Linked DNA regions of Homo sapiens: all the other regions are linked to region 1. The links come from fine-mapping of genetic effects on gene expression. A gene starts in region 1. Each other region holds a variant in brackets. All regions are shown on one strand. Distances are between the middles of the regions.

Region 1 (8,186 bases):
GTATGTTTCTGGACTGCCTCCTTGACATCAATTATAGGTACTTGGGAATGGCAAATTAGAATAAGAGAATTTTATTTAATTTGCCTGGTATTACACCATTCTCCCACATCTCCTACCTCATTCACAAAGCTTTGTAAAATAAGAAAGAATACTATTATTATCTCCATTTTATAGATGAGAAAAGCATGGCTTAGGAAGCTTACATGAGTTAACCACAGCTGATACACAGTCACCTTTTTTTAATTTTTTTTTTAATAGAGACAGGAATCTCGCTATGTTGCCCAGGCTGGTCTCAAACTCTTGGGCTCAAGCCATCCACCCACCTCAGCCTCCCAAAGTGCCAGGATTATGGACATGAGCCACTAGGCCTGGCCACACCCTAAGTTTTAAAATCTAAGTCTGGAAAATCCTCCTGAAGTATTGCTAGTTATAAGTAAGCTCTACTTAGGAACAGAAACATTTTGCCAAACAAAATTGTGTAATGCATTCTAAATTTAAATAAAAATACTTTTACAAATAGTTCCTTTGATTTATCAGTAACACTAAATATCTCTGCCCTGTGTATAATGATTTAAAAGAATGAAAAATTGGAGAGGATGCTGGAAAAACTGAGGATCATTTATTTTACGGTCTACTACTGAAACAGGAAAAGTTCCCTTGTCGCCCTTGCAGGGCGTGTGATGGGGGTGTGGCTCGCTTCTTCAGTGTCCTGCTGCTCAAACCTCTATAGGGGCATACAGACGGGCAGATTGTGAGGCTCTGACCCCACAGCAGTGTCTAGGTGTGAATGTTTACAGCTGAAGCCCCAGTGGGCATGTGTTACAGGGTGCTCTTTTAGTTTAACCGTCTGTAGGCGGCTTGTGTTAGCTCAATTAGACCCCTGCCTTATCGCAAAGACAGAGGGCTTTCTGTATCCCGGGTTCTTACCTTGGTGTACGGGAAGAATTGGATCACACGTGGGCTTGAAGAATGAGTGGAAAGTTTTATTGAGTGGAAGTAGCTCTCGGCAGACGGGGGAACCAGAAGGGAGACGGTTTTCTCCTGGAGTCAGGTATGGCGGCCTGACTCTTCTCTGACCTCCCGCGACAAACTCTGCATTCTTCCGCTGGTCAATGGCCTGCCAGCATGCCGGTGTGCTCCTATGCTGGTGCGTTCCTTTCGACATCCAGCAGCCCCTGTATTCTCTGCCTATATGCTCCTCTCAATGTCCAGCTGCTTGTGCGTCTGCCTGCCAGGGTCTCGGGGGTTTTTAAAGGCACAGGATGAGGGCATGGCAGGCCAGGGTGGTCTTGGGAAATGCAACATCCGGGCAGGAAAACAAAAATGCCTGTCTTCACCTAGGTAGGCCCAGGCCCAGGGATGAAGCCCTAGCTGGGGACCACGCCCTCCTCTACCCAGCACTTCCCGCCCCCCTTCCTTATCATTTAAAGGGACCACGCCCTTCCCTTCCCAGCATTCCCTTCCCAGCACTTTCCTGCGGCATCACTACCTGTTAACAGGTGTTCCTTTTCGTTTAGATTTACCTCAAAACAACGGCGAAGGATCTAATTATATTTAGGCCCAAAAGAGCACCTAAGTGAGAGTAACAGAAGGTTACTTCTAGAACTAAAATGAAAATTATTCTTCAAGTGTTAGTCAAAGGAAAACTACTCCAGAAGGAACCAAATATCCAGACGAATTTAACTTAAGAAACAGCTACAATTTAGGCAAACTGGACAGTGGATCCAGTAGGTATTTTAGTAGCCACTAAGAAGACACTGAATCGGGTAGATTCTATAGGGATTGCATATTAGTTATTTAAATACAAATATCCGGCTGGGCACGGTGGCTCACACCTGTAATCCCAGCATTTTGGGAGGTCGGGGGGGTGGGGGCGGTGGGTGGATCACCTGTGTCAGGAGTTCAAGACCAACCTGGCCAAAATGGCAAAACCTGTCTCTACTTAAAATACAAAAATTAGCCGGGCATGGTAGTAGGCAGTAGCAATCCCAGCTACTCAGGAGGCTGGGGCAAGAGAATCGCTTGAATGCAGGAGGTGGAGGTTGCAGTGAGCTGAGATTACACCAGTGAACTCCAGCCTGGGCGATAGAGCAAGACTCCATCTCAAAAAATAAATACATACATACATACATACATACAAATATCCATGGAAAAGTTGATATATTGAGACCTTCTATCAGCCATTCCCACTATAGTGTAATTTAGCTGTTTCTCTGACAGGAATTTTTATTTAAGAAGAAAGAATTTGGAGAAATAGACATAGTAGGAGGTAACAGATCAGGCTCTTTCCACCAGAAGAAACACAAATACCTTAAAAAACAGGAAGAGGCTAGAGAGATCAGTGGGGTACTAAGACCAATTTTCCATGTATTGTATTTTACAATTTTTGCTAAAGGCATGTCCTAATTCCTTAAGGCTGCATAAAAATACTCAGCCCAGGAGCTAAGGAAAATTTACTCAGAGGACAATGTATGTTTTTCTGGCTTTCTTACCCTGTTTCACCCAAGTTTCCAGTTTCACCTGCCATTGGGTTATGATTACTCCAGCACAGATGACTTGTTCCTCTTCCAAACCCCATGAAAGGAACTTAGAAAATTTGTCTTTATTATATCTTTTAATTAACACTTCCCCAACGGGATAATGATACTTCTGGGCTATCTTATGTTCTTTAAATTATGTATTTAATTTCCTAGCAATCAATAAGAGCCTTGAAGGTTTTGTAAGTCTCACAACTCCTACCTAGTTTATATTTTTACATTTATTTATTTATTTATTTTTGAGACAGAATCTCACTCTGTTGTCCAGGCTGGAGTGAAGTGGTGCGATCTCGGCTCACCACAATCTCCACCTCCCGGCTTCAAGCAATTCTGCCTCAGCCTCCCAAGTAGTTGGGACTACAGGCATGCACCACCACGCCCGGCTAATTTTTGTATTTTTAGTAGAGACGGGTTTCACTATGTTGGCCAGGCTGGTCTCGAACTCCTGACCTCGTGATCCACCCACCTCAGCATCCCAAAGTGTTGGGATTACAGGCGTGAGCCATCGTGCCCAGCCTAGTTCATATTTTTAAAGTTTGTATAGATTTATAGATGCTTTTAAAAATTATGTGATTATGTGTCTTGCCTTGGCAACCTGGGCAGGCATTCCAGACACCCAAAGGGATTATTAGTTCATGTTCGCACGTCTGCCCAGCAACAAAACTGAGCAGCCTCCACCAAGCACGTAAAATCCCCATTCCTCCTCTTATTCATTTATTTAGCACTTAATAGTGCCAGGCAGGAAGGTAAAAATACATTTAAAAAGGAATGGAGGTAGCCGTCTTGCCCTGGAGGTGCAGGAAGCTGCACTTCAGTGTGCTAGGTAGAGGGTACATAGGCCGTTTCTGTTTTTCTTCCAGCTCAGGGATTTATAATGAGAGGAAGTGCTACAAAAAGCTGTGGTGCGAAAATGACGGACGCTATGAATGGAAAAAAAATCTAAAATCAATCCGGTCCTAAGCAAACACGCTTCACCTACACTCATAACTATTGCAGACCTCCGAGGCCTGGGATCCCCAAGAATATACTGAGTTTGACAAACTTTTCAACTTCAACTTTAAATTAAAAAGACAGTAAAAGAACCAAATCCATAGTACACAGCAATCGGCTAAAGTTCCTGGGGCCCTGCAACCCAGAGTTGAATAATTTTGTATTAAATTCCCAATATCAAGCTAAATCTATTTTAACCACAGGAAAAGCAGCAACTTGTCTGGCTATTTTAAAAATCTGAACAGCACTTAGGAAGAAGCACCTTAGCGCAGGGAACAGCTCAGTGCCCCGTGACACAACTCTCCCGCGGGCCCAGGGACGCCTCGTCTCGCGAGAGTTGAGGGACGCCTGAGCGAACCCCCGAGAGAGCGGGCGTGGGCGCCAGGCGGGCGGGGCACTGGGGATTAATTGTTCGGCGATCGCTGGCTGCCGGGACTTTTCTCGCGCTGGTCTCTTCGGTGGTCAGGGATGGCGCGGAAGTCGAACTTGCCTGTGCTTCTCGTGCCGTTTCTGCTCTGCCAGGCCCTAGTGCGCTGCTCCAGCCCTCTGCCCCTGGTCGTCAACACTTGGCCCTTTAAGAATGCAACCGAAGCAGGTGCGGGTTGGCGGCCTGGGCGGGCGGCTGCGCCGCGAGAGCTTGCGGGTGGGGATGACTAGCCCGCCCCGCTGCAGTCACCCGGCAGGGCGGACGGAAGAGCGCCGGGCTGGGCCGGGCCTCGCGGTCCCGCCCTCTAGGTCTTCCCGAGTCTCCAGCGCCGCTCAGTCTCTTGCAAGTGGCCTTTACTGCATCCTCCCCACCTACCGCTGTTGCATTTTAGGTCCTCCCTTCATGCAGCCCCCAGCGCAATGTATTTTCCACCCTGCTGCTGACCATAGTTATGGCCTTTGTGCTTTAATCAAGTAGCAGCTACGCTTTTCTGCCTGACAGTCTTTTCACGGGCTGTGTACGTCTCCACCTCTCGTTTCTAATCCTTCACTTCTTTGCAATTTTGTAGACGACTAATAGTGTCCCAGCCATAGCCTACTCTTTTCCCATTTACTTTTTTTGCCACGTGTTGTCATACTTTACCTGCCACTTAGAATTCAAGGTTCCAACCTTTGCTGTACATTCACACTATCTGGGGAGCTTCTCAAAAATCATCCTGCCGGGGCCCACCTCCTGTGACTGTGATCTAACTGCTGGAATCAGGGCCACTGTTTTTCTTTAAAAAGCTCCCTAGGTGATTTCGATTTGCAGACAGGGTTGAGAACCACTAAGCTAAGGTATCACCTCTTCCAGGAAGCGTTCCCTGACTTAACTGCCCTCGTGTCCAGAATGAGTTAGGTTCCTGCCTTCTACACCTTGTTAATAGCCTTTACGTACCATTATCTTGGCATTTTCGCATTGTACTATGCTTGTTTCTTTCATTTGCTTAATGACCAGAAGAGTCATTTTCAGACCCCTCCTCCTCCATCTGAGGTTGCTAACGTATTAACTTTCTAGGGCAGAATTGGCTCCAGAATTTGGTGGCAGTGCATACGATTCAGAGAAAATGAAGAAGCAGGCTGTGAGAAAGATATTCCCAGCCATAATGAGACGAAAAGAAATTGCATCAGCCTGGGCGGGGGACAGTTCTGTGTTTAAGTTGCCTGTATTGAAAGAGGGAACTTGCGTAAATACACTTTCAAGCCTGTAGGTGCTGTAGTGTTTACCAACCAGAGCACCCACTCTTCAAGGAATTCTGTTGTTACCAGAAAAGAAATTGTCCATCAAAGACCCTTCCCCCCACACCCCCAAATGTATGGGATCCTGGCTCTGCTACTTACCAGCTGTGTGACCTTAAACTAACTGCCTGACCTGTGGCTCTGTTTACTTTTCTTTAAAATGAGGGTCGTGATTGTACAGTACCTACCACAGAAGCTGTTATGAAGACTCAATGAACTAATCCATATGAAGTCCACGTTGTAATTGTTTGCTGTTCAGTATTATTAAGACTTCCTGGGATAGGTGTTACCTCAATACACATATCAATTATGCATATTTTAATCTAATGATGCAGAAGAAATGTGTGAAGAAGGCTGCGGTTTAGTGGATTTTTTATTTAACTGCCTTTTAGTGGTTTCGATTGTACCTTTTAAAATAAAGGAGGGGATACTGATTTCGTTTCTCGCACACAGAAGAGATAGATATTAGTAAGTGAAAAAAAAAAAAACCTTCAGCTTGCACCAATAGCCAGTTTTTTGAGTTCTTCTGATAACTAGTTAAATAATTTTGACTCTTCACTGACTCCTTTGTAACACTTGATAAACTAATGTGTTAAAAAATCAGCTTAACTCAGTAAATGTGAAAAAGTTGTTAAATTGGAGTTGGTTTGTTGCATTTGGCATTGAAAAAAAAATATATATATAAACAAGCATTATTGGGATTTGATTAACAGCGTGGAGGGCATTAGCATCTGGAGGCTCTGCCCTGGATGCAGTGGAGAGCGGCTGTGCCATGTGTGAGAGAGAGCAGTGTGACGGCTCTGTAGGCTTTGGAGGAAGTCCTGATGAACTTGGAGAAACCACACTAGATGCCATGATCATGGATGGGTAAGAACACCGTTCAGGTCCTATTTATTATGTTGAGTTACATTTAGAGTTGTGGTCTTCTGAGAGCAAGATGAAAGAATGCATGAGTTTTGACACAGATCAAAACCCCTAGCTTATTATACTTGACCTTTCTAAACACAGTTTCCCTCTCAACTGAAAAAAAAAAATCAGAGTAATAGAAATATCACATGGAGAGATAGGTAGTCCCTTAGAACTGGGAGAATGCCAAGCTAAAAAACTATGTCTCTGACCTTATAAACAATCATTTATCTGCTGTCCACAAATGCTGTGGTTTGCCTGACCTGAAGCCTTCAGGCCCCTTTCAAAAGCCATATTTAAAATTAGCTTGGAGAAACTGAGAATTTTAGTGCTGTTGTGGTACATGGCAAGTTGATTTTCTATTTTTTTTCCTTAATTTTGTCTGATTGTGGGAATCTATATGAACTTCGTGGATGTGCTGTCACTTCTGTGTTAAGATGGTGGAGTTTAACCGCAAAACACTATTGATTGGAGAAAAGCAATGTTTTTAATCTATGAACCTCTGAAAACTCCTTAATTCCTAACTGCATTCTATTTTCTTGCAGCACTACTATGGATGTAGGAGCAGTAGGAGATCTCAGACGAATTAAAAATGCTATTGGTGTGGCACGGAAAGTACTGGAACATACAACACACACACTTTTAGTAGGAGAGTCAGGTATTTTTTTAACTACACTGAAATTTTTTCTAGTCTTTTGACTATAGTTTTCACTGAAAAATAGTACAAAATCATGGATAAAACCAGATCTAAGTTCAAATTCCAGCTGTTTTACTTAACATCTATTGAACTGGATAAGTAACTTTTAAATCTCTTTACTTCTTCATCTCTAAGAAGAAGGCAATGGAAGTTTTGAGACGGAGTTTCGCTCTTGTCACCCAGGCTGGAGTGCAATGGCGCGATCTCAGCTCCCGACAACCTCTGCCTCCTGGGTTCAAGTGATTCTCCTACCTCAGCCTTCCAAGTAGCTGGGATTACAGGCACGTGCCACCATGCCCAGCTAATTTTTATATTTTTAGTAGAGACGGGGTTTCACCATGTTGGCCAGGATGGTCTCAATCTCTTGACTTCGTGATCCACCCGCCTCAGCCTCCCAAAGTGCTGGGATTACAGGTGTGAGCCACCGCGCCTGGCCGGGACGAGAACTCTTATAATGCATGCCCCAAAGGTTTTAAGTGGATCTGTTTTAGGAAAGGCATAAGGAAATCGAAGGTCTAAAAATTGAGTCTCTTAAAACTGTTCATGTGTGAATATTCCTTTGAAAGTCTTTGTGTAGCTCACTTAAGATGCTGCTGACCCAGAATGTCTCTAGTACATATATTTTTGTTGAAAAGACAATACTTGAATAATTTATACTTTCCTTTTTTCCAATCTCCAGCCACCACATTTGCTCAAAGTATGGGGTTTATCAATGAAGACTTATCTACCACTGCTTCTCAAGCTCTTCATTCAGATTGGCTTGCTCGGAATTGCCAGCCAAATTATTGGAGGGTATGCACACATTTAATTTAAAAAAATAAGTTAATTGAAAATATTCAGTGACATCCTTTCTGCTCAGTGTTGCCTGCCTGTTGTCCAGGGTACTGGTTAGCATCCTGGCTGTACATTAGAACTAGTGGTTTTAGTTGACTCTCCAGGTATGGATGTTCCTGAAACACCTCTAGCTGCATTGGGTGCATATCCAGCATGGAGAGCTACTGGTCTCTCACAATAGTTTTCAAACTGAAGTTTCTGCCATGTGGAGGTGGCTGCCTCAATCAGGGCTGCTCTGCTTGTATTTCTTTCTAACTAAGTCTAAAAAATCAGTTTGGAAACTATGAGTCTAAAATATTTCTTAGATTTTACGTGCAGTGTATCCAGTATCTTGTTCTTGACTTGAGGACATGTAATATTACATGTCTAGTATGTTACCAGTGGAATAATTTTTCTTTAATGAGACTTTTGGCATAAATCAGTTTGCCTTTGCCGTACAGGGTCCTTCTGTGGGATATCTTAGTCTCTCATCTATTTCTTCCCTAAGTCCTAATTACTTTCGAGTAGCCATCAAGTCA
Region 2 (8,186 bases), 44 kb before region 1:
TCTTTGAGTATTGAGAGAGAAATACGTGGACTTACTGTCAGACTCTGGTTCTGCTAATCCCTGGAGACCTAGAATGCTACTGTGGAAACCCCACTCAGAGTGAGGGCCTGGGTCTGTCTCATGGTAAACACATTCTCCTGTTGCTCAGTATCAGAGTGTAAACTGAAATGGGTATACTCAACAACTAGCAAAATCCCTACATTGACTCTGAATCACGGAGTGAGGACTAGATGGAACCACAGGCCAATTTGGTGTCTGTGGAATTCCCCTTCCCTAAGATGAGTAAGACCAAAGCAGCATGATATCTCCAGTGGGAATCTGTATATTAGTGCCACTATTAATTACTTAAAAGATGCAGTGATTTTGGTCCCTTATGTGTCCTCTTTCAATTTGCCTTTCAGTCTGTACAGAAAATCAATAAGACTTACAGAAGAATAGTAGATTAGGGAGAGTTTAAGCAATAGTTACTCAAATTCAAGCTGCTGAACCAAATATTGTCTCATAACAGAGCAAATTAAGCCCTTCAGCTTAGTATGCAGCTGGACTATTTTTCCTCTCCATCATACTATATAGAGAATACCAGAAACAGTTTGCTTTCACTGGGCATGGACAGCAGTATATTTTCACTTTCCTGTCTTGTGATATGTCAGTTTTTGTGTAGTATGTGAGCTATGTGTGGTAATTCTATCTCTGTGTCATAATTTAGTCTATAGGAATGATAATGATTTCACCATTCCACAGTAAGTCAAGTTTTACTCTTATACTGATTATTTTTTAAAGATAGAATTTTATGAACACTAACTAAAAGCAATTAACCTAGTGGTCTTGCTAAGACACAAGTAAATAAAAAGGTCCAAGATAAACCCATTAAAATATAGTGCTCAGTGGACTAAATAACATTATAATATCTTTGCCACAGTGAAAGGCAACTTGCTGTACCTTGCATTGCCCACAACTAAGAAAGATAAAGTGCACACCACGGTCCTATTTCAATTTGGTAGGCAACATACAACTTTTGGCATATTTTTCTAAACTAGCAAGCCATCTATAAGGTTGCCAGTTTTGAATGGAATCCAGAGAAAGACAAAGTTTTACAGCTGATAAAGCTGTAGCAAAAGCATCCCTGCCTCTTAGCTCTTATGACTTTGTGGACCCATTAGTACTTGAAATGACTGTAGCAGATCAGGGTACTTAGTGGAGCCAATGGCAGGCTCCTGGAAGAAAATCATAGTAAACACTCATTGAATGCCCCCTGAGGAAAAACCCTCGCTGGAAACAATTTTTCTCTTCTTTTGTACTAACTGCAACCGTATTACTAGGATCTGGTAGACTAAACACTCAATCATGAGATACCAAATGGCCATGCAACCTGACCTGTCCAGCATGAATTAGGTGTTACTGAACCCAGAAAATCATCACGTTGTCAGCAACACTCCATCATGAAGTCAATGTAAAGACATAGGCAAGTTGCATGCAGAGACAACTCAAATTCTCACCATCTCTACTCTTATTGTCCTGCCTCCTCTCCCTCATAAAGTCTCATGAGAATGACTTTTGTTACTACTCGACTGAGGAAGAAAACATTTGGACTTGGTTTACATAAACATGGTATGTTATAACCATGCAGAGGTAGACCAATATAGCATTTCAGGACAGTCAGGGTGTCCCTGATGGACAGTAGGAAAGATTAATCCTCCCAGTGAGCACCAATCCCACCGTGGTTGGGGCACTGTCTTTCAGGATGTGGTATATGCTTCAAACCATCATCTCGTATATGATGCCAAGTCTCTCAAAACCAAAAATACATGAGCCTGGGACCAAGGAATGAAAGTGGCACCTTGCTCTCAAACCTGCTGTCTTGTTCATAATTTTGTTTTCCATCCTGGAACTTTGGTCTCCAGTTGTTTAGAGGTTTCAATACTAATAATGTCCCCAAGACTAATGATCCCTTTCTACATCTTAATTATAGAGCACCCTAAGTATTTAGCACATGGCTGCCCGGTTAGAGACTACATGTTACAATTTTCCATTGCACCTATTAGGTAGTCATGTGGTTAAGTTATGACTAATGGGGTGTGAGCAGAGTGATGCATGCAACTTTCAGGTCAAATCTTTAATAATGGAAAATGCCTGAACTCTACTTTCTTTCCACATTCATATGTAGAAATACATACAAATTCTACAGATGTAATGCAGATGATCCAGTTCTGACCATGCCTGCAAAACCCTACAGCACTACAGAGCAACAAGACAGAACAAGACTGAAGAAGCCCCTATGTAATCTTATAAAGCAGAGATAGTTTTATGCCCTAAACCATCTGCCAGTACTGGACTCATGGGAGGGGAAAAGAGTATCTTGTTTGAGCTACCGTATTTTGTGGTTTCTTCATGGTAGCAGGTTATCTTGTTCTGTAACTGAAACAGTATCCAAGGGAGTAATGTTCTCAACCAAAAAAATAAAAATGATCCCACTGCACTAGCAGATGGCATTGTCGCCTGGTCATTTGGGAGTCCACATGTTACTGAACCGACAAAGGAACAAGGGGTGTTACTGTTTTAGTGGGTGATTAATACATCTTACGGGGAAATAGTCATTGCTATATTGTGAAGACTGAAAGAATATTCTGGAAGATGCAATGCTCTGGGCAAGGTTACTTCCCAATTCTGCTACAACAAGGAAGATTTGAGTTACCCACAAGGAATAAACCCTGATTTGCTATGTGTCATTTGAGGGAAAAGGGAATTTAGAATGGGTGGTGGTGTGTGGTTAATTTTATATGTCAACTTGACTGGGCCATGGGGTGCCCAGCTACTTGGTTAAACATTATTCTGAGTGTGTCTGTGAGGGTGTTTTTGGATAAGATTAATATTTGAATTATTAAACTGAGTAAAGCAGATTACTTTCCATAATGTGGATGGCCCTCAACTAATCAGCTGAAAACTTGAACAAGACAAAATTTGACCCTCCCTTGAGTAAGAGGGAATTACTTCTGTCGGACTGCTTGCACTGGAAAGTTGGTTTTTCCAGCCTTTGGGCTCAGACTGAAATGGTTCATTTTGGGTCTCAAGCCTGCTACCTTTGGACTGGAACTTAGACCACTGTTCTGTTTCTCAGGCCTTTTGACTTGGACTGGTACTACACCATCAGCTCTTTTGGTTTTCTAGCTTGCCAGTTGAAGATCTTCAGACTTCTCCACCTCTATAATAGTGTAAACCAATTATTTATATTAATTAAGTATGTCTCACCATTCTCTCTCTCTCTCTGTCTTTCTATTTCTTCCTTTAGTGGGAGATAGGAGAACTATAAAATGCTATATCAAGAAAGCCAGGGTGATTGATTTCTGCAAAAAGGGTTGGGGGAATCAGTGTTAGTCATTGACAACTTATCAAGGTAGATGAAAATTGAAAAGAGACCATTGTTTGTGTTATGATACAATCACATGTGACGGCTGCTGCTCACTTGCTAAGGAGTTAAG[G/T]TGGAAGGTAGATTATTTAGGGTTGAAGAATGCAAAGATAAAAAGCATAGAGGACAGAAACAGTTTCTGTCAAAGAGTTTTTGTTTTGTTTTGTTTGGTTTGGTTTGGTTAAAAATGTGCATGATAAGTCAGTTCCTCAAGGGAATGGCATGGCTAAAGGAAAATTTCTATTTTATTTTCTGTTTATAAATAAGAGGTCTGGGCCTGTGAATAGGCAGAGAAAAAGAGGTCCATGGGGAGGAAGACATGGAAGATGGAATAGAAAGGGAGGATAATTAATACGGAAGGGTTCAGAAATAATAGAGAAGAATTAGGATGAGAAGATGAGGTTATGCAGGTGGTCTAATCAGAAAATAGAAACAATTATTTTTTCCACAAAATTCACTTACTGTATAAATTTTTAAATTAATGTAACCAATATATCTCTTAATAGTAAGTTTCTCTACTTTCTCTCCTCATCGAAAGGCATACTGAAACATCATTTTGTTGTTGTTGTTTTTGTCGTTACGATGCTGCTAGGAAATTGTGTCTTACTATTCATGTTTCTAGAGAACAAGAGTTCATTGCCAGTCTAATTAAAATTCAGAACAACTCTGTATGTTTTTGAAACATAACTGAAGAATATTTCATCCGGAATACACCTTGCAAGAGAATGTTGAATTCTTTACTCTTCATTTAAATTAAGGTTTTAAAAGAGGTCAGGCACAATATAAGCAGAGGAATACTAATTGAAAAAGCAATCATAAATTTTTTTTCTCTTCTAAATATACTTCAGAAATAGTTCATATAAATTGTGTAGTTCAAGGATACTTTTTCAAAGTACACACAAATTAATTAGTAACAAAATATTAATTATGTGTGTTTGATTGAACTGATGAGGCAAAATAGAATACATCTCAGTGCTTCAAGACCAAATAAAATCATAGCAACTCTTATCTTAGAACACTATTTTTCTCTTTTTATCTTACATTATACAGGTTGATTATTCATACTAAATTCAACAGACACTTTTCTTTACATCATTTTGTGATTCATCCTCATAATTTAGTTTTAAGTCAATGACTTAAAGACATGACGTGGTTTCTCATGAGCCATGAAGGGCAAAATATTCTGTGAATCACACTTTGGGGGCTGTATGGACAAAGAAGCTATTATATTTCAGTCCTTCTGAGATTTCTTCCAAGAAGCCATAGTCTTGACTAAATTATATAAGTAAATCCACAAATCAGAGTGGAACAAGAGCTTCAGAGGAAAGAAGCAGTATTAGTTCCAACCCTGGGGGAGTTCTACTTGGCGACTTTCAAGTTACCATGGTCTTTCTATCTTTTAAAGACAGACAATGGACTAACAGAAACTTTAATGAACAACCTGGCATCTGAGACAAACTTTAAGTTGAGCAAATAAAGTTCATTCAAAGATTGCCAAATTTCTGGAGATTTTAAGTGACTTTCATTTCTCTCTTACTGGAAGAACTATAAATACAGTTTCTAAACACTGTGTACTTAAATACATTCTATTTAGCATTTATAGGCTAAGAAAAATACTAATCATCTCTGTGGTTGGTATCTCATAAGATGGTCACCAAAGAAATCCACCTTCTGGTATTCAGACCCTTGTGTAAATCCTTTCCCTTGAGTGTGGCCCAGACCCAGTGACTTGCTTATAACAAACAAAATGCAGTAAAAGTGATAGAATATCATTTCATCATAAAACAGTGGCTTCCTCTGTGGTGCCCTTTCTTACTTCCTCCATTCCGCAGTCTGAGGGAAGCCAGTTGCCATGTTATAAAATGTCCCATGAGGTCCATGTGACATGGAACTGATGTCTCCATCTGACAACCTACAAACACCTGAGACCTGCCAATCATCACAACAATGACCTTCGAAGCTGATCCTTCCCTATTCAAGACCTAAGATGATTGCAGCCCCAGCTCACAGCTTAGTTGCTGCCTTAAGTGACCCTGAATCAGAGACAAATAGCTAACTAGGTATTCACATGCCTGACAATAGGTTTGTTGTTTTAAGCTGCTAGGTTTGGGGGTAATTTGTTACACAATAGATGACTAATACCATCTGTGCATTCCTAATGTTAGATCTATCCTTGGTATAAGCAAAGCATTTTAACTATTTTTAAACAATTATTTGACTCCAGGCACTGTTCTAAGTGCCTTACAACTATTAACTCATTTAAGCCCTGCAACAAGCCTATGAGGTAAATTCTGTTACTAACTATTTTTGGTAAATGAAGAAACAGGCATCAGATGATCAAACCACTTTTCCAATGGTCAACACTAGAAAGTGGTGAAATCAGAGTCCAAGCTTTTAACTACTATGCTATCCTGTCTTTACAAGTCAATAAGTTTTAAGTATCTTCATTGTTATTAGTTAGGCTCTTCCCCCAAAATAAATTCTTTACAACTTCTAAGCAGTTAGCTTATGAGTTCCTCAAGCCAAGGGAGACCATAAGTGATTAAGACTATATTTTATTCATATGTGTGCGTTCAGCTTACTACCTAGCATGTTCAGGAAATGTCTGTTGAAAATAATTGATTTAGAGGATAGAACAAGACTTAGGGCATGTAAAGAAGAATTCATTCTTTGTGAAATGAAATATTCTAAAGGCCTAATCTATAATTATTGCAACCTAGCCTACAGGAGAAAGTCCAGCTGTACATTTACATGTATGCATTTTCCAGCTTCTGTTTTTTCACTTGCATTTTGTGCAATAAAAAGGAAAGTTTTAAGAGCTAGTGGATGGCAAAGTAATTTATGGTGACTGGAAGTAATCTGGGAACATCAGAAGCTCACCTAGGTGTTGTGAGACCTTACCATCGCTGTTAGCATTCGTACTATGTCACATCTGCATTCTTCTTTGAAGCTGTGTAAACTGGTTCTGGATGAAGCCTTCTGAGTTTGTTTTACAGACAAAATGCAGAATCACTTTCAAGTAGAGCATGAATTGCACCGGACATGCATAAAACTGGGACAATTCTTCCCATCTATAAATGCTCCTTTTTAAAAAAAATAATACACATGAGTTTGGCAATGATGTAAAACAAAAGAAAGAGGAAAAAATTCAGTAGTAAAAAGTTCAGGCAGAAAACACAAAGAAGAAAGAATCCAAGTAGCCTGTGAGCTTTCAACAGTTCAAGGAAAAAGATGTCCTACAGCTGGATCAGTAGCAAGAGATTAACCACTTTAACTGGTCTGCAAAAGGACTTGGTCCACAGAATTAAAGGAGCTCATTTGTGATTCCCTAAGAAAGGCTGCTTTTTTTGTTTTCTCAGAAGAAAGGGGCAATTACTCAAAACAGAGCAATAACAGGAAGAAACCAAGAGGGAAATAAGATTGAGTCACCCCACCCTTTCCACATGGTACCACATCTGTATGCTCAGGCATTTGAACTTCACCTTTCCTTACTAGGAAAAGCTCAAAGATATGGTCAGAAATAGCTCTCAAGTCACCTGAAACGAAGAATCCCCTGCTTAATATCATATTAATAACATTAAAGAAACCCTATAGAAAATATGGAAATGAGATGTGTATTCATCCCAGCATAATTACCACTATATTTTGTGACAGTTTGGAAAAATGGTGGTTATTTCTGCTACTGTGAACTTACAGAATGAAATGTCTCAAAACGATCTCAATAATGTATATTTTCACTTTCCATATTTACTACCATATTTTTGCACATACTCAAAGATTTTATTATCTGGATTGTTACTAAGATACCATAAAGAGGTCATCATGTGCATTGTTTTATACTGATATTTGTATAAAACATACTAATAGACATACAAGTGGAATAATAAATCAAAAAAGTGCAAGAGAATATGTAGCAAAAAAAAAGAGTGGGGAGAAGGATCAGCTGTTAGAACAAACTCTGCCTCAAAATAAAATATAATCATGTGTCGCTTAATGAGGATATATTCTGAGAAATGTATCATAAGACAATGTTGTCATTGCACAAACACCATAGAGTGTACTGACACACCTACTGCACACCTAGACTATATGGGGTAATCTGTTGCCCCTAAGTTACAAACCTGTACAGTGTGTGTGTAACTGTACTACATACTATAAACAACTGTAACACAGTGGTTAAGTTTTTGTGTTTCTAAACTTAGAAAAGATAAAGTAAAAATTAAAGGAGTATAAAAGGTAAAATACAGTAAAAACACAGGTACACCTGTATAGGTGCCTAACTTGAATGAAGCTTGCAGAACTGGAAGTGGAGCTGGGTGAATCAGTGAGTGGTGAGTGAATGTGAAGGCCTAGGGCATCACTGTACACTACTACAGAGTTTATGAACATTGTATACTTAGGCTACAGTACATTTATTTTAAAAGTATTTTTTCTTTCTTCAATAATAAATTACTTAGATTACTGTAACTTTTACTTTATAAACTTTTTAATATTTTAAACTTTTTGACTTTTGTAATAGCACAGCTTAAAACACAAATACAGTGTACAGTTGAACAAAAAAATTTTCTTCCTTTATATCCTTATTCTATAAGCTTTTCCTATTTGAAAATATTTTTTTCACTTTTTGAGCTTTTTTGTTAAAAATAAAGACACGAACACACATAAGCACACACATTAGCTTAGGCCTACACAGGGTCAGGAGCATCAATATCACTGTCCTCCACCTCCACATCTTGTCCTACTGGAAGGTCTTCAGAAGCAATAGTCCATTTGGAGTGTGATA
Region 3 (8,186 bases), 49 kb after region 1:
TCCACAATTCTTGACAACCAACATGCTGCCCATTTTTTATTTCAAACACAGTAGATAACTAATGATAAAATAAGGTTGACGATAAGCCATTAATAGAAGTATAAGCAAATTATCATGAAGGTATATCTGAAGACAGATCATTTTGATCGGAGAACATATGGGAAGACCTAGAAAGCAGAATTTGAATGGGGCCTTGAAGGAAGGGTAGGACTTCAACAGTTGGAGTATCAGGTAATGGCATTACTAGTAGTGGGAACAGTTTGAGTAAAGTCTAAGGACATGTTAGGCAAGGAGAGACTGGTTATATTGGTGGGTAGGGTCAGGAGAAAAGAAATGGAGCAACAAGCCTTGAAAAAGGGACAGCATCCAACTCTCTGGGGGGACTGTGTAATGTTTTTGCATTTTTTCTTCCTTGGAATCATGGAAGTTTTTTGTGTGTTTTTTTACAAGAAACTTTTACAATCTAAGTACTTTGTACGGAAGAAGTGGCTTTGGTGCTAGAAAAAAATAGCACTTAAATAATTTCTACCCTTCAAAACTGAGAGTTGTCATCGTCTTAAATTCTGGACAAAGGTAGTTTTGTTTTTTCTTGATTGCCCTAATAAGGAGGAAGAATACACACTAGCACTGTAGATTCACTGCATTGTTCAACACCAACTTGCATGCAAGGTAGGTAGTATGGTGGTATCACTGGGACAATAAGAATCCAGAACATTTTCTCTCTGTCCAATGTAATCTATGACTCTAGAAAATGAAAAATACTTGTCTTGGCAAAGAAGCACAACTTCCCATTCTGAGCAGCTGCTCAGACCTTTGAGACTTATTCAAGGGGGCATCCCAATAACGTTGCACAGCAAGTCTCTAGTCTCTTCCTTGCACAGAAAAACAAATCCAGCTAAATATGCACATAATTTCCAGAAATACAGTCTGAAGAATGTGGCCTTCATTTCTTGAAAGGCCTTAGTAAATGTCAGTGATCTAAAAAGTAGACTCCAATGCCACATCAAGGACCATGCTTGCTAGAAACAGCTCATTTACAATTTGAGGAAAAGAGTCAGAAATGAAATGTAGGAATATAGCTTTTTAGACATCTTAGCAGTTGATTCTTGATAGGATGGATGTTTAAAAGTTCTAGCATTAATGATATTTACAATAGCACAATATGAAAGCATCAAGGTCACTTCCCAAATGTTCTTTCACTATGTTGCTTTCCAGAAGGGTAAATATGACAGAGTGTCTAGAAGCTGCCTAACAGTGGTTTTATCATAAATTCTGAATGATAAATGACTTTCAGACAGTCCTAAGCATCCCACAATGGGCTCTAATAGTACTGAGAGAAAATTTTACGATGAATACAAATCACCCCTAAAGCCCGTAATACATCATGCTGAGTAATATCACAATAAGAATGGGAAAGAAAATGAAACTTTAAATAGGCATATGCTTTTATGTACTTTGACTTGAATTTGTATTCTTTCCACCCACTCCCTCAATCTAACAATAAATATTACTCTGGAAAATAAGAAAACACCTTAAACATTTCTTGGAAAATTTGATTTGTAAAAAAAAACACAAAATCTGTACTATAAGAGATTAACATTACAATTTTTCTTATTGGTTAAATCGAGAATAATGATAATGCTTCCACATGCTCCCTTTTGAAAAGAGTTTTACATGTATTCTCATTTGAACTTTATAATAACTTAAAATAATAGACATTCCCATTTTATAGACAAAGGAATCAGCACATTTAAATGACACTTTGGCTAGCTCACAGGTTAATGAATGATAAAACCAGGAGTAGGAACTTCCGTCTCTTGAAAATTGAATAACAGTCTTACCAACTACCTAAGGGGTAGGAACTTCGGTCTCTTGAAAATTGAATATTAGTCTTACCAACTACCTAAGTTCAACATAAAATAATTTTGGGACCACTGTTATAGTAAATATTGCTGTGTAAAAAGTGATCCCTTAACTTGGAGGTGTTTTGTTTGATGTTGCTCAGGAGTATTAAATAATTTGTGGCTTTTATTTCTCAACCATCACTATCCCTAACGTCATTTTCCCCTCTGCTTTCATTTGAGCCAAATATAATACTTATTAATATATCTGACCTGAGTTTATGATAAATTTCCTAATAAAACTCAAACACCAAACCCAATCCATTCCTTTGGAGGTAAGATAAACTCTGTGTGATTCCATCTCTTAAAAAATCTGCTTAATTTGCTTTTGTGTTCAAAATAAAACAATTTTGATTAAGAAACTGCCATTCTATGATTAGTGAAGCCCACATAGAATAACAGCAGAAGGAAAGTGGTGATTCCAAAGGGAAGAGAAAACCGAATCACCTCACTTCTCAAGTAAGTGAACTCAGTGCTTTCTGTGCAAATTTTATTTTCTGTGCAAATGACAAGAAAGATAAAGGAGTAAATGTCTGTGAAGTTTATAAAATGGTTATTTTTTTCACTTAATGGCAGTTTGGTACCTTTTTTAAAAGCTGCTTGGGAAGAAAGTAGATCACCTGGTTGGATTGAAAACATTCTAACTAATGGTACTAGGCAGTGAATTATAATATTGTCTTCTCAGTATGCTCTATGGCCAGAATGGTATGCACACACACATTACTCTGTATCAGTTATTTTTTAAATTCAGGTGACCTGCTTATAACTGATAGATGGGAAAAAGTACAATTAAATGTAAGATATTTAATTTGGTCTTATGCAATAGCTTACATTTGTGTTCCATGTTAAAGTTTTTCAAGTGTTTTCCCAGATTTGATTCTTTTGATCCTAACAACCACCTTGGGAGGTAGATAGAATCACTATTTGTAATTCACATTTTGCTGATAACAAATGAGGTTTGTAAAGGCTGAATGGCTTGCCTACCAAGCTCCTAAAAGTAGGCAGAAGGAGAACTAGAATCAAGACCTGCTTTATCCAGTGGCTTCTCTATTTATTTTTTGAGGAGTCTGGCTCTGTCACCCAGGATGGAGTGCAGCGGTGCGATCTTGGCTCACTGCCTCCTGAGTTCAAGGAAGCAGTGAGCCTCCTTGACCTCTGCCTCCTGGGTTCCAGCAATTCTCCCACCTCAGCCTCTGGAGTAGCTGGGATTACAGGCTTTTGGCACCATGCCTGGCTAATTTTTTTGTATTTTTAGTAGAGATGGGGTTTCGCCTTGTTGGCCAGGCAGGTCTTGAACTCCTGACCTCAAGTGATCCACCCGCCTCGGTCTCCCAAAGTGCTGGGATTACAGGCATGAGCCACCGTGCTCAGCCTCCAGTGCTTATTCTATCAATCTGCAAACGCAGGAAGAGCAACAGGACAGTACAAAAGAGGAATCTTGTAAGTTCAGGTATTTGGCCAGAATAGGCCTGAGCGTATTTAAAAATCCAGGTTATTAGGAGAACCCAAGGTGTTTCAGGAAAGAAAATATGTGGCAGAAAAAAAAGTAGAGGGAAAAAAGCATTAGTTCAGGATTTGAATAGTATGCAATTAACCAGTGATATGCTTTAAAATCTCCCTTTAGCCTTTATTTGTGTGGCATACAATGACCAGACCAAGCCACTCTTATTTTTCCTCTAGCATTCTCTGGAGCTAATTAATTAATAGATATCTTCTGTCAGTTCTTCTCAAGTTCAGCAGGTTATTTGAAGCATTAACCCTCATAGGCTTTGAGAAAGAAAAGAAACAGTCTGCAAGACATAATTGCAAATGTGTAAAATTATGCCAGTGAAAGGTAATATGTAAAAATGAAATAGCTGAGCTAGGACTATTGGGAGACACTCTGGTTTTTTAAAAGACGTTGTTAACATTTGTATTTTCAGTTTTAAAATAAACCTGACTGATTCCTCAAAGCCTAGCTTTGAGTAAAATGATGATATAGAGAACATGGAGACAGTGAAGATATAGTAATACCTGCACTGCTGCCTAGAGGATTGTGAATTTTACTCTACTTTTTGTTTTGTGATCATTTACAAGCTAGTGATGAAAGGAGATTTTACATGGCTCTAAAGTTGATTCTTGTAGAGTGTAAGTTTGAATCCACAAACCCCCATATACTAAAAAATGTTGTTTACTTGAAGACAAATTAGTCTCTGAGCCCCCTTCTAACTTGCCTAATGGGGAATTCAATCTCCATCACGGTGAGTGCCCTTCTAGTTTAGGGTCCTCAACGTTCTTTGGGCAGGGAGAGACTCACCCAGAGTAGCCTAGATGGGGACAGTCCTCCTATGACCAGCCCACCTATATGCCTTACACGTGTTCATGTTCAGACCCACGTATCCTCTGAGGTTCAGGTTTGTTACTCCTGTGCCCCTCACAGCCTGGGACAAAGCTGAGACCCTCTAACTGGAGTACAGTCCACCGAGCTCACACTGCAGCAGTTTCCTTCTAGAGCACTGTGCTCAAAGGCCCTGGTCTCCCTGCCTTCTGCTCTAGTACAGACCCCTAGAGGAGCTCAGGATTCTTGAAAACAAAGATCAC[G/T]AGAAAGAGTTCACCACAAACCACACTTACTCCCCGCCTTCCTTCTGCATGAAGCTTCCCTCGTGCACAGCGGCACAAAGGCCTAGCTACGTGCTTGGTCAAGTCAGAGAGAAGCAAGAGGAAAGCAACAATTCAAATCCATATAGCTATAAATTATGCAGCCAGAATAATTTTCATCTCTTGGCCCTCTAGAAAAGCAGATATGGGGTCACCAAAAATGCAGGATCTGGCCATTTCTTTCCCAATATTCCCTTTCTTCATTTTTACAGCTTTAAAATGGAAATGATCTCTGAAGGGGTTAAGCCTCATCCATTCGCTGGTGTGAATATTCTAGTTAGATGAACATCCTTCTTAATTACCAAATTAGAGATATTTGATTGGGATGGGTGGAAGGAGGAGAGATGGGATGGAGGTCAGGACTAAAGGGGGCAACCCACAGGCAGAATGGGAGAGTGGGGAAGCATTGGCTAGCAGAGGACAAACAGGAGGGCTGCAAATAGTGGTGGTTTGGAAGGTGGTAAACCTTTGATTTCCCCAACTCACGGCCTCTCTCTTAATCCAGACCACCCTAGCCCAGCTTTGTGTTTTCCCGCATCTTTCCTACTAAAAATACAAAAAACTAGCCAGGAGTGGTGGCAGGTGCCTGTAATCCCAGCTACTTGGGAGGCTGAGGCAGGGGAATTGCTTGAACCCAGGAGGTGGAGATTGCAGTGAGCTGAGATTGCACCACTGCACTCCAGCCTGGGCAACAGAGCAAGCCTCCATCTCAATAATAATAATAATAATAATAATACTATAGCATGCTTTTTTCCCTGAGATTGATCAAGAGACTCAGATACAAGCATATACAGTAGTTACTCAGAATTTCAAGGGATATAATGGTAGGGGAGACCTCTAGATGACAATTACAAGGAAGAAAACAGATTTTTTTATATAACTTACCTTCTAGCTAATTCTCCCACATTAACTAGGGCAAGAAATTCTGAAATACAAATGTGTATCATAGGAGAGATTATAGAAATGCAAATGATTAGAACTAAAGTAATGATGACTGAGGGATATGATTTCCTTGCTGGGTACAAACGTGTCACAGCACTATAGGAGAGACCCAGGGAACAGCTGTTATGTGACTAAGGAGGTATTAGCGGCATAGACAAAGGTACATGTGCTTGGTTACTCAACTTTAAAAAACAAACTATGACAAAACGCTGGAATTGTAAAGCAGAGTCAATAATCAGCAGGAAATCTGTACACTCTTTGAAAACAACCCGGAGCAAACTCAGGAAAAGTGTGTGCTATGAATCAAAAAGAAAGATTGTGTAACACCTTGCCTTTGCTGCCACCCTCCACTCTCATCTTTCTTCTGCCCACCTTTCTGCCTTCCGCTACCGCTTTTTTTCTTTTCCCATCACTACCCCCCTCCAACTTCCTATACAGAGAAACTCACAGATAGCAGTTAACTGGCAAGTAATATAGGCTAGTATTATCAAAAACATATCTTTTCAAAGATGGTAAGTTTTTCCAGATGAAAACAAGACAAAGAAAACCCACATATATTGTGGCAGGTTAGGAACAATCTAGGAATTTAGAAAGCCAGAGATAATTCAAACTGAACCTACTGGCATTCTTTTATTCTTCTCGTCTTTGTTTCCCTTATCTATCTCTCTTTGCAACCGAATTGCCCCAAATCTAAATTGTGAAGACTGCAACTTCTGGAGCATCTCCTATAAGCCAAAATAAATGTATTTCCTTTGATGCTTGAAGCAACAAATAAGATAGATATTACAACCTTTATCTTGAAAATGAAAGCACTAAAGCTCAAAGACCTTCAGTGATTTGCCCAGGGCCACCGAGCTGGCAAGTGGGCGGCAGTGGATCTTACCCCATATTTGTCTGCATTCCATTCATCACAGCCCACGGTTCCCCCCAGCAGACCTCATTGCCTCTTATCCATGTTATTGCAAGAGCTTTCCTGCTTTCAGTCTCATATTTTTCTTTCAACCCAGCCCTCACAGTACTTACAATATAATTTGCCCAATCAAAGCTTTCCTGTCTGAAATAAGTTGGGACATCTATTTGATCTGTACTTTCAGAAGAATATGGTGGACGGGAAAGGGGTCATAAGGAGTGCAATTACAGAAATCAAGAGAAAGCAGAGGCAGTGAATGACAATTGACTAACTGAATTAGGACTCTGGAAAGTTGAAGTGGAGAAGAGATGCGACAGAAGCCAAAAATGTTAGAAGGAAGGGAAGGGAGTGAAGAGATGTGGCAGTGAGCCGGCAAAATGCCATGCAGGTGAAAGGGGTGACGAATGAGGGAAACTTTAAAGGTCTAAAAGGAAGAGCAGCTAATAGGATGTATATAAAACTTCTAGAAAAGTCTACCATTTTGAGATAGTAAGTGTAAAAAACATAAATGACTTCAGGTTGGCTTTGGACACATTTATAGATCATAGTCTTATAAAATACTATTAATGGAAGCCTCTGATATTTGGAATAAACTTTAATTTTTCTGAGGTGAATATCATCAAGAACAGTTATCCTTTCTTTTTTAGAGGACACTTTGCAGCTATAGTCAGAGATAGAGTTACAGGCAGAATGGTTGAGAATCTCACCCTATGGGGAAAGGCAGCGTAGCTCAATTCTGTCTATGACTCTGCCACTGACTTACGTGGTCAGTTTACATGTTCTTTCTAAGCCTGAGGTTTAATATCTGCAAAATGAGGGGAATGATAATTTCTGCCTCAGAGAATGGTTATGAGAACTAAAAAAATATATATGTATGGGCTTGGCACAGTGTTTAGGACATGGTAAGCATTTACATGCTTACCATTTGAATATGTAACAATTGAATAATTGTTGAGTATCTGTGAGCCTTCCCTATGATTTTGAAGTAAGGAAGAAAAGCAAGGAAGCAGGTAAGGAAGAAAAAAGAGAGAAAGACAGTAAAGAAGAAAGGGAGGAAGGGAGGGAGGGAAGGAGGGAAAAGAAAGGGAGGGAAAAGGGATTTAAAAAAAAACTGGAAATAAGGCAGGAGATTTCAAACAAGAAATTTGTAGTGTAAGGAAAGTAAAACAAACTGAACATCAAAATTGCTCGGTAAACATGAAAACTGGATGTGAAAAATTAAATTAATAGAAATGATTGAAACAGAAAGTAACCAAATAATCTGACAAGTTAATGTGTCATTAGGTAACAATTTGCAAGGAAGAAAAGACAATAAAATGAAAAAAAAATGTGCAGATGTAACATATTCCCCAAGATATTCCCAAAGTGACACTAGGCACTGTCAAAGATAAAAGCCTAGTGAGCTTGAATTTACACAGCTTAGACATTCCAGCCTAGTGGTCCAATAAGAAAACAGGAAGGCGAGGACTGCAATTAGATATAAAGGTGGTTATGGAAAGAAGCACCATGCTTGGACTGGTTTAATATTGCCTCACTATTTCATAACATTCTCATGTGTAGTTACTTTAAATAACATATTTGAAACAATGGTAATAAAAAGGAAAGTGAAAATAATATTAATAAATAAAAGAAAAGCAGATATTATGAAGTCAGTTAAACATCAGGCCTGACCTTTTACTATTTGTCCGAAAGCATCGGGAGAGTTAATTTAGCCAATTTTAATGGAAACTTTAACTGCTTCATGCTCAATAAGGCTATGAAGTTGTTCCCTGTGGCAGCTCTGAAAGACAACTGTG

Evidence for each region. PIP is the estimated chance that this variant, and not a neighbour inherited with it, causes the effect.
Region 2: its variant is fine-mapped to the expression of AGA in whole blood (INTERVAL, PIP above 0.99).
Region 3: its variant is fine-mapped to the expression of AGA in whole blood (INTERVAL, PIP above 0.99). The same link has a PIP of 0.9 or more in CD4 T cells.

Annotation. Positions count from the first base shown.
Region 1 is chr4:177,438,185-177,446,370 of GRCh38, reverse strand. AGA (aspartylglucosaminidase) reads left to right here and starts at 3,934. Exons shown (of 9, transcript NM_000027.4): 1 at 3,934-4,122; 2 at 5,945-6,098; 3 at 6,683-6,795; 4 at 7,514-7,626. The coding sequence starts at 3,996. It overlaps AGA-DT (AGA divergent transcript), which reads right to left and starts at 1,361. Exons shown (of 4, transcript NR_183779.1): 1 at 928-1,361. RefSeq lists enhancers at 3,269-3,348, 3,439-3,982, 4,809-4,888.
Region 2 is chr4:177,482,098-177,490,283 of GRCh38, reverse strand. The region is part of intron 1 of AGA-DT (AGA divergent transcript); the gene reads right to left. Among named protein-coding and RNA genes, the nearest start is that of AGA-DT, 41 kb to the right of the region's middle. The variant G/T (reference allele first, on the strand shown) is at 3,477.
Region 3 is chr4:177,389,684-177,397,869 of GRCh38, reverse strand. No RefSeq gene overlaps it. Among named protein-coding and RNA genes, the nearest start is that of AGA, 49 kb to the left of the region's middle. RefSeq lists a silencer at 4,441-4,500. The variant G/T (reference allele first, on the strand shown) is at 4,482.